Linked DNA regions of Homo sapiens: region 2 is linked to region 1. A link means that fine-mapping ties the variant in region 1 to the expression of a gene that starts in the linked region. Tissue or cell type: skeletal muscle. Region 1 holds a variant in brackets; the other region holds the start of a gene. All regions are shown on one strand. Distances are between the middles of the regions.

Region 1 (5,231 bases):
GTGCAGGCACACCCCACCTGCCTGCAGCTACTGGAGAGAACACCTGCAGTCAGAAAGTGCTCTTCTCCCTGAGACTCATCAGCATTCAGGCTTCTTTCTTGATGGCAGCAGCATGTACCTTGGCCCCAGGTAGTAGATGAACACTGGAACCCCACAGGTTTGGGCTCATAAGAAACCCTTGTGCCTAGGCTGGGAGAGGCCAGACTATAAGGAAAGGGAGAACTCTTGTATCTCTTCCTTGTTCCACAGTGATTAGTGTCAGATTTTTTTTTCTTTTTCTTTTTTGAGGCCACCAGGCTGAGGAGCCTGCAGCTTTAAAGGGTATCTGTTAGGCAGGAACCTTGTGAGAAAGAATCGTTCACAACAAGTGTGAAGGGAGACTAGAGAGTGAAGGCAGGGAGACGTGTCAGGGCCTGTCTGTGGTCTAGGGAGAGGTGATGAAGCCACTGAAAAGGTCATGGAGAGTCACCATGGGAGGCAGTATTCCTGAAATCCAGTGGCCAGGGTGTGGAGGAAAGGGATGGCACACATGTATCTAGAGGAGGCTAAGGAAAAGGGAATAGGAGTGACCATGAGCTCAGCTGGACATGCTCCTTGGATTTGTGTGTTTATAGTTTTCACCATATTTCAAAAATTTGGAGCCATTATGTCTTGAAATAGTTTTTGTCTCCCCTCTTCATAGACTCTAAGTACATAATATTAGAATATATGATTTTGTCTCAAAACTCACTGATGTTCTGTTTTCTTTTTTGTAGATTTTTTTTCTCTGTGTAATTCATTTTGGACAGTTTCTATTGCTATGTATCCCAGTTCACTAGTCGTTTGTCTGCAGTGTCTAATTCTCTCCAGTGTATTTTTAAATTTCAGGCACTGGGTTTTTCATTTGCAGAAATCTGATTGAAGTCTTTTTATCCCGTATCTTCCATGTATCCCCTTACCAGGCTCATGTTTTCCTTTACCTTCTTGAACACAGGGATATAGTTATAATAACTGCAGTAAAGACTTGTCTACTAATTCTATCATCTGTATCATATGATTTAAGATTCTATGTTCTTAAAAAAATGACTTGCACAGGGAAGCAAAGTCATTAATTCAATACATAATATGAAGTGCCAATTTTGATTCATTTCTGGACTTCCTATTCCCTTTGTCCTATTTTGATTTATTAAATAAATTATTACTCATTTTGTATCATTACATATTAGGATTGTTTTAAAGTTGGCTAAGCCTCTGCCCCAGTGTTGCTGTTTTACTTGTTATAAATCATCGCATTTGTTGCAAATTTTTCCACATAAATTTCCCTAACACTTCCTCAACTTACGCAAACTATATTAGAATTTTAACTGGTATTATACATTAAGCCATATGGGACATCTTATTTTTAAAACACTTCGTCTTCATAGGCAGGAAGAATAAAAGTTCTTTATTTCTGACATTTAACTTCAGCAATAATCTTCATCAACCTATTCATCCATCCATTATTTATCCATATTCTTATGCCCTGTTATATTTCTTTGAAAGCCCTCGATTAATACAGAGTCTCCACAAATTAACGGTCTTCTCTACTCCTTCCCAATATTCATACTTCATTTTTTCATGGCTCATTACAGATGTCCAAAACTGCTGCACACAAGTGGTGACAGAGAGCACCTAATTCCCTTCTATTTCACATAAATATCCCTTATTGCATTTTTGCTTTTCTTAGCATATTATCAGAAATGAACATTACATGTTATTAAATGATATAATGTATGTTGACATATTATTTCAAACATCTTAGTTAAATGATAAATGATTAATAATTTTTCTTATATTAAATTGGCTTCAAATTCTTGATACTAATATTATTTGATCTTTAGTGAATCTATGCTTTAATGTGTGGCTATGATGTGTCAGCTAAAATTCTTATTTAGAATCCATTTACCTGTGGGTATGTAAGCGTGTGTGTATTTTTTTTTAAGATTTGGAGATAGGTCTGTGGCGAACTTTATTTTGAGCTAATCCCTGCTTCTCGTAAGTGACCTTTCACACACTAACCACCTAGTCTATTGTAATCTTGAGAACCATAACCATAAGGAGGCAAAATAATTAAGAAGGCAGTTATATGGTTTTTTACTTTTTCATCAATTCCATACCATCGGGAGTAACTAAATGAAACATACTTCAAAGAAAGAAGTCAAATTAAATGACTGTCATTGCCCATTAATAAAAACAACAATCTGAGCTTAACAAAAAATTTAACAAACAGGGAAGACAGAAAGATGGTATATTTATTGCCTGACTACACTGGCATAACTCACTTTAACAAAAATTATCACATTTAATAATATAACCTGTTATAGCTAAATATTAAACACATATTAATTAGGGCCAACTTTGAAGGATTTCTAATTCATCCATTTCCTTATTCACTATTATATATGAAGCACTACACTAGGTGCAGGGTCATTATAAACAAGTTTTTTCTTTGGGAAACTTACAAGCTAGTGCAAGCACTGAAAAACATTTTCTGTAAAGGGCCAGATGACAGTATTATAGGCTTTGGGGGGCCATACAGTCTCTGCTGCCAACTACTCAACTCTGTCACTGTAGGGCAAAGAGTCATAGACAATATACAACAAATGAGCATGGTTGTGGGAGAAAACTTCATTTACAAAACAGGTGGTAGGCCAGATTTTGCCCATGGACTAGTTTACCAACACATTCGCTAGTGGAAAATAATTAACTAGCAATTTCAATTTGATGTGACAAATACAAATAGATGTAGGCAAAGGTTGTTATGGGAA[T/C]ATGACCTAAGACAATCAAAGGCCTCTTGGGAGGAGGCAAGAATCCAACTAAAGACTTCAATTTCTCAAATTCAGCAAATAAAAGTAGCTTTTTATAATGTGTAACCATTATAAAACAATTCAAAACCTCATTCTGAAAATGTACAACATATTTGATAAAAGAATTGCTTTAATATATGATATTCTCTATTGTTTCTCAAAATTAACCATAAGTACAATTGAAAGCTTACCTTGAGTGACTGTTTTGAGAACAATTAAGGTTGATAAAAATCTCAATGGCAAATTGGAGCTCTTAAAGAAAGCAGCTGTCTTTGGTTTATTCTCCACAGAATGCTGTGGAGAATTATCCTGAATTCCTTTAGTTACCACTCCTTTAAAAATGTCTTCACCCAATCTCCTCAATGTTGATGTCATAGTCGAGTGCTGTTAAAAATATGTACAATCTTAGTATATTTATTCATGTTCAGAATATATCTTTTTTTTTGAGACACAGTCTTGCTCTGTTGCCCAGGTTGGAATGCAGTAGCGCAATCATGGCTCACTGCAGCCTCAAACTCCTGGGCTCAAGCAATCCTCCTACCTCAGCCTCCCAAGAAGCTGGGACTACAGGCACTCACTACCACACTCAGGTTTTTTTTTTTTTTCGGTAGAGATGGGTCTCACTAAGTTGCTGAGGCTGGTCTCGAACTCTTGGGCTCAAGTGATCCTCCTACCTTGACCTCCCAAAATGCTGGGATTACAGGATCATGAGCCACTGTGCCTGGCCAATAACTATTTTAAATATTAAATCAAATATATGTATTAAAAGTAAGTGAAATCTGTGGCTAATTTAAAGTTGAAAATATGTAAAATTGGAAAGTGACAATTTTATCAACTTAAAAAATTATTTGTGACTGTACATTTTTCTAAAACATGTAAGAACATAAGATCATGCTATATTTCTGACACAGAGAAATAGCAAGGGAACAGAGGTGGACTACCTACTCTCTCAGTTGCTGATTGCTCCACCATCAATGAAAACCAGCTTATCAGGCACATCCTTCTGTGTTCACTTAAGAAATGATTATCTAGAGCCTCAGTCCCTTCAGCTAACTCTGATTTAAAAAGTCATAGTGACTCCAAAAACTTTTAGCAATTTCAAAACAGTAAAATACTGGGTTAGAATCATAGATAATTCTCATGGAGAATAAAACAAAAAAAAATGGGCAAAATAGAAATAGTAGCATGAAACTACCTCTAAAATAATATATGATCTAATGGTATTTGATATATCTATTAAGAATAAAATGAGGCTGGGCGCGGTGGCTCACGCCTGTAATCCCAACACTTTGGGACGCCGAGGCAGGCAGATCATGAGGTCAGGAGATCGAGACCATCCTGGCTAACATGGTGAAACCCCATCTCTACTAAAAATACAAAAAAATAGCCAGGCGTGGTGGCGGGTGCCCATAGTCCCAGCTACTTGGGAGGCTGAGACAGGAGAATGGTGTGAACACGGGAGGCGGAGCTTGCAGTGAGCCGAGGTCGCACCACTGCACTCCAGCCTGGGTGACAGAGCGAGACTCCATCTCAAAAAAAAAAAAAAAAAATCAAATGAAAGGAAAGCATTTCAAACTGTTGCAGATCAGAATGCTTAAACCAGATTTGGTAAAAACTTAAAATTTCCTTTATTATGACCCAATTCTCCAATCTCATGTGACTGAGTTTTTATAGCAGTTTCCCCTATCTGCATGAAAATTTGTGACCAACTGGTTCCTAACTCAGTATTGATCCTGCAATGTGGATAAGTTTTAGCTTTTAAATTTCTGCATCTAAAATTAAAAACAAATCTATTGAGGTTTTACAGGTGACAAAGGCCAAATGGTTGAGTGGTCAGACACACAAGCAGTGCAATCTAATTTAAATATATTGTCAGTACAATTTTTATATTATTAGAAAAAAAATACATGTTTTTAAACCTTTGTGTAAAAAATAGAAAAAAATGTTCAAAACTCTACTTACAATAAGTGTGTTAAATGACAGGATTAAGGTAAACTTTTTTTGTTTTTAAAATTATCTCTAATGCTTTACTACTACACTTTTATAATGAAAAAATAAACTTGAAAAAAAAATGTGGGCCAGGCACAGTGGCTCACGCCTGTAATCCCAGCACTTTGGGAAGCCAAGGCAGGCGGATCACAAGGTCAGGATATCAAGACCATTCTGGCCAACATGGTGAAACCCCGTCTCTACTAAAAATACAAAAATTAACTGGGCTTGGTGGCGTGCACCTGTAATCTCAGCTATTCAGGAGGGTGAGGCAGGAGAATCGCTTGAACCTGGGAGTCGGAGGTTGCAGTGAGCCGAGATCGTGCCACTGCTCTCCAGCCTGGATGACAGAGCAAGACTCTGTCTCAAAAAAAAAAAAAAAAATGTGGATAGTATTTGCCTTTAATTGAAGGAAAA
Region 2 (5,231 bases), 470 kb after region 1:
CCTTAGAAAGGACATTCTCCCCAAATTGTGATCTGCTATAGAGAAATGACTACATGATTTTCAAACTCTCTTTTTCCCAGTTGCATAGCGTAGGAGACACTTAGTATTTGTTGGCTGAATGAGTGAACCATTAGGGCTTGAACTTGATATTGACCATTAGCACTTAGTATTCAATTTTTCGCCTTTCTCTGTTTCCCCCATATCTCATGGGCTGAAAGGCTGTAAAAGGCCTTCCCTAAACTCCTTTGCCACTAAGATTCTGAAGGCTATTTAGATCCCTCCAGTGAGATGCATTAGCCTGAGTTTTGGAAGGCAGTGGGGAGATAGAAGTCATCCTTCCTGAGGTGGTGGCTGCTGATAGTAGCCCCAGCAGATAGAAATTTTGCAGAGACCATTCCACGTTCCATGGCCCAGTGCCCTAGACCCAACCACTGCCACTGTGGCCATAGGTAGAATGGTATCCCCCAGCTTCAGTCTGTCTGTGTCTTGCACTGATCCTGACTGATACAGTGATATTGTGCTATCAACATAATCTTCACCCTTTGATGAAGATCTGTTGCACCAGATGTTCTGGCAAAATCCAGGTTAGGAGGATGTTGAGTTATTTTAGGATGGCTTTTTTTATTTTTTATTTTTCCAGAGACAGGGTCTTGCTCTGTTGCCCAGGCTGGAGTACAGTGGTGGGATCCTAGCTCAGTGCAGCCTCCAACTCCTGGGCTCAATGGTCCTCTTGCTTCAACCTCCCAAATAGCTAGGACTGTGAGTGCACACCACCATGCCTGGCTAATTTTTATTTTTTTTTTGTACATAGGAGTCTCCCTATGTTGCCCAGGCTGGTCTCAATCTTCTAGCCTCAAAAGATCCCCCTGTCTTGGCCTCCCAAAGTGATGGGATTACAGGTGTGAGCCACCATGCCTAGCCAGGATGGCTTTCTGAATCCTGATCTAGGTTGATCTTTCCTGTATTATCTGGCCGAAACTCTATAGATTCCTTTTCCCATATTCTCAATTTAGTGCTTTTAAAGGCCTAGAATAAGGGCATAGGTTAGAAAAAAATTAAATTACATTTTATATTTTATAGTAGTTGGTCTCCTGTATTTTCTGGCAGCAACTTTTATTACAGGACAAAGGGCCAAGATATCTTTAGCTATCCATGCAAAGAATAGTCCAGCCATTTGTACTAGTTTTATGGGAATTTATAGCCATAACACTGAATGTCTATAATGAATGAATTGAATGAATTTATAGACATGAGCCAACATGAGGGCAGATTCAAATGTTGCTAGAGGCTCCGGGGTGAGTGGAATGACTTCTCAATTTATTCTCTAGAGGCCAGTGATTCTATGATGTATTTTTTTCTTGTGTCATTCAGAGTATTATTCTTTTAAAAATTTAGGGTGAACTATTTTTGCCATCTATGCTTGTTTCTTCTTCCTTCTAATAAAATAGCCTTCATTAATGTATATGGTTTTAGTTATGATTAAATATTACTTTAGATGGCAAGTATTTAATTTTCTTAGTGTGCTTTTTGAATTGCTTAAACCTCATTAATGCCATGAAAAACCTAAATGAACCATATCTTTGTACTTGCGTTTGGCAGATAGAGAAAAGATTATTTATGTATTGAATTGATAATCAAGTGGAATTGTCAATGAAATTAAGATGATGAGATGTGATCCTCACCAGTGGCTACTTTTAGAAATTTACATTCAGAAAAATTTGATCCTGAATGGGCTCCTGATGAGTAAGATTGGGAAATCAGGACCAAAATGAAACAGATGGACAAAGAAGAGACCAAGGCCTCCATGTGCCTGCAGAATCTTCTGTCAGGATCTTGAGAGATAAGAACAAAAGAGGATTTTGAACAGTCTCAGAAAATACTGAGGTTTAGATTTTTTGATGTGTGTGTGTTTGTGTGTGTATAACAAGAGTTTTTGACAGCTTGATTTTGCAAAGAGCAAATGTATATACAATTTGTGTGTGGACCCAGTAATGTATTTCTAGTAGATATGTAGATATGCAAAAATATTTATAGAGAACTATTTCCACCTCATCATCACCCAATTTTTATGACGTGGTGGCTCGGCTTAAGCTAGTCCTACTTTTACAGACAACTTTGTTAAACTGATTGTTGAGATAAGGCAGTTGGTTCAAAACTTACCACAAAGGAAGGTGGAAATCAGAAGGATGGTTCTCAGACCCTGAGATGGGAGGGCTGCTGAGGTGATATCAGCATTGCAGAACCAAAGCTCCCCTATTTCTTTCCCAAATCAGACTCAGGATCACCTTTCTAGCTCACACACTCAAAGCAGCTTTTTACAAGATCTACAATAAGGGCCTAGATTGGGAATGAATAAATAAACAAGTCTACCCTTTTGCTCTTAACTGTTTTCACTCTCTCCTGGGAAAGTGAAAAAAAAAAAAAAAGGAAGTACATCATAGTATCATAGGAAGATTGAATTCTAAAAATTTGTATGTCATTTTAGTATGTTTCGGTATAGCTTCAGTTTCCACTAGTAACTTTCCTTAGCCATATCACTCTGTCCAGAGTTTTCCAGATCAACTTCTTTATTTCATGACTAATGCATACTTCCACTTACCTTCCTAACTCTCCTCTTCCCCTTCCCCTGCAAGCCCTTCCACCTACCTGCTTTAGGATAGGTAGAAATAAGCAGGTCATCAGGCTTGGCTTGGAAGTTCCAGATCTTATCCCAGATGTCACAGGTGTCTGTCGGTTGAAGAATTCCCTTCACGTAGTTGACACTTAAGCGCTTTGTTCCATCAAATGTAAAATCCTCCATGTCGTGTAAGGCCATTAGTGTAAGAAATCAGAGGGCTCTTCCAGACACAAAGTTATCTTCAGTCAGCATATGGCTGCGTTGTGGATAGAGGCAGCACTCTATCCACCACACTACCACACTATCCAGCCCTCTAGCACAGGCCTGTCTGGGCCAGCAAACAGGGAGAAAGTGAGTTGCAGGCCTCCCGACTCAGGTTCCAGGGAACTGGAACTCTTGTTTATGACTTTGTCCACTGGCAGTTTCCTGAGGAACTGCAGCCCCCTCCTCACCAGGCTGTGGCGTCACAGCAGAGGCGGCCACAAACCCTGCTGGCCAGCAAACAGGGAGAAAGTGAGCTGCAGGTCTCCCGACTCAGGTTCCAGGGAACTGGAGCTCTTGTTTATGAATTTGTCCACTGGCAGTTTCCTGAGGAACTGCAGCCCCCTCCTCACCAGGCTGTGACGTCACAGCAGAGGCGGTCACAAACCCTGCTGGCTGGGTCCCGTTCCAGCCCTTCCGTTCTCTGTGAGTTAACAGGACATAGTATCACATTGTTTATAGCTCTCATGTCTGTGTCCATTAAACCCTTCATAGATAATTTCAGTAATTATTCCTTCTGGGAATTTTAAACAATTAAAAAGTTGCAGGACTTGCCTGTGAAATTACAGATTCTACACAGAATGACTTCCCTGAGAGACTGCAGGGACTTTCCCGTGGGCTATTAACAGTGGGGGCCTGGATGGATCTGAATCTCCCAGTACAAACATCTGCCAGGGTCAGCTTTGTTATTTTTTAAGAGTAAAATAAATAATGCTAAACTGGAGAATTGTAGGGGTTTCATCACAGCTATGAAAACATGTATGCCTCATTTAAAGCAAAAGGGATGCAGAAAACTCCAGAGTTAACAGAAGACAGTGGCTGCCTTAGGAATCCATTCTGCCCCTGATAATCAGAAATTTCACAACTTGCTTCAGTCCCTGCCCCCGGCCTGGCCTGCACCCCAGGGCCATGCCACACTTGCTCCCCATGGCAGCACTCCTTCTGGAGATCTTGTCGGCTCTTGTGTGTCTGGCTGTCTGATTCTCTTTCTTCGTGTCCCAGCTTTGATGCCCCCTTTCTGGAGAAGCCTTCTTTGACTTTCTATGTCATCTCAAGTAGGTCCCTCCTATTTCCTTGCTCATGGCACTTTGTGTTCCTTTAGAGCAACCATTGACAGTTAGTTTTTGCGTGTTTACTTGTTGGCATTTTCTGTCTCCTTCACTACACTCTAAGGCACATGAAATGGGGCCTGTTGTTTTCTCACTGTTTGATAGCTGTATGCCTAGTGTCTGGCATTCTTCTATTTCTCGAAAGAATGAATGAGTAAAACTAAGCAAAAATTGAGGAAGCGAGTTCCTTGGGCCATCATTATGTGGGGACTAGGTGAGTATGGTGGCTGTGGCTTGACATCCTTCAGAGAGAAGTCAGGCTGCCTGTATTTGAACCCTGTGCCAAGTCCCAGTAGCTGTGGGCAATGGCAGGTTACAGAATCTTTCTCTGTTTCATATCACGCTTTTCCTCAGGTCTGAATTGGGGATCTTAACATTATCTACCTCATGGTTGTGGGGAGATAAAACAGCTTATTTAATGCTTGGCAACAGGGAAATGTTGAATAAATCATAGCTGTTAATAATAATGGGTGACTTTGTTCACCATTTCTCTGTGGCCCATGTTCTGGATGCAAACTCAGAAAAGATCAATTCTTTGGCTTTCCCTATTCCTCATCCCCTCCCTCCAGACCATGGTGAGGTGGATGGGCCCTTGAGACAGAGACTGCCAGGTGGAATGCCTGGGATGCATATGCATTTAAACAGACTTATAAAAATCACCTATAATTTTTCAGTTAGATTTTATTCTATAATCTTTTTGGCCCTGTGTGCCATCAGAGTAGAGTGGTAGATATTCAGCAATGCCTTAGCAGTTTTCTCCAGTGCGTTGTGTGCTAGAGGGGGAGGGCTGGGAGATGGGGGAGGATATGCTTCTGGACCCAAAGATGACTGACTGGGATTGAAAATAGATCCAGGGAAGATGGGAAGTTCCAAATAATTTGAAAAGTGATCTTGACTACAAACACTGCTCTTATTCTCACTTAATGTTTTTACTCAATAGTACTTTCTCATGAGGTTAGGAGAATTAAATAAATATATTTAGTGATTATAAGAATAAAGTTGGTGCTAAGTCTATATTTGACAAGCATTGCTTTGGAATTCTAAATATATGGGTTTGAATTTAAACTGCCCCCTAATAGCTGTGTAACTTTTCTAATACTTATCTCTTCTGAGCCTTTCGTTTTTTATTAATCTCACAGGGTTAATGTAATGTTGGATGTAAATAAGGTATCCTATAATCTTGGGATATATTGGGTACCCAAGATAAAGCTAATATACTCTCCCCCTCTAATTCTTCCCTGAAC

The links. PIP is the estimated chance that this variant, and not a neighbour inherited with it, causes the effect.
Region 2: it holds the start of SULT1C4, and the variant in region 1 is the best candidate, but not a certain one, in a credible set for the expression of SULT1C4 in skeletal muscle (GTEx, PIP 0.70).

What each region holds. Positions count from the first base shown.
Region 1 is chr2:108,844,716-108,849,946 of GRCh38, reverse strand. It overlaps CCDC138 (coiled-coil domain containing 138), which reads right to left. Exons shown (of 15, transcript NM_144978.3): 12 at 3,017-3,209. It also overlaps a transcript of RANBP2 not described here. Among named protein-coding and RNA genes, the nearest start is that of CCDC138, 61 kb to the right of the region's middle. RefSeq lists a silencer at 3,718-3,918. The variant T/C (reference allele first, on the strand shown) is at 2,787.
Region 2 is chr2:108,375,922-108,381,152 of GRCh38, reverse strand. SULT1C4 (sulfotransferase family 1C member 4) reads right to left here and starts at 3,199. Exons shown (of 7, transcript NM_006588.4): 1 at 2,647-3,199. The coding sequence starts at 2,815.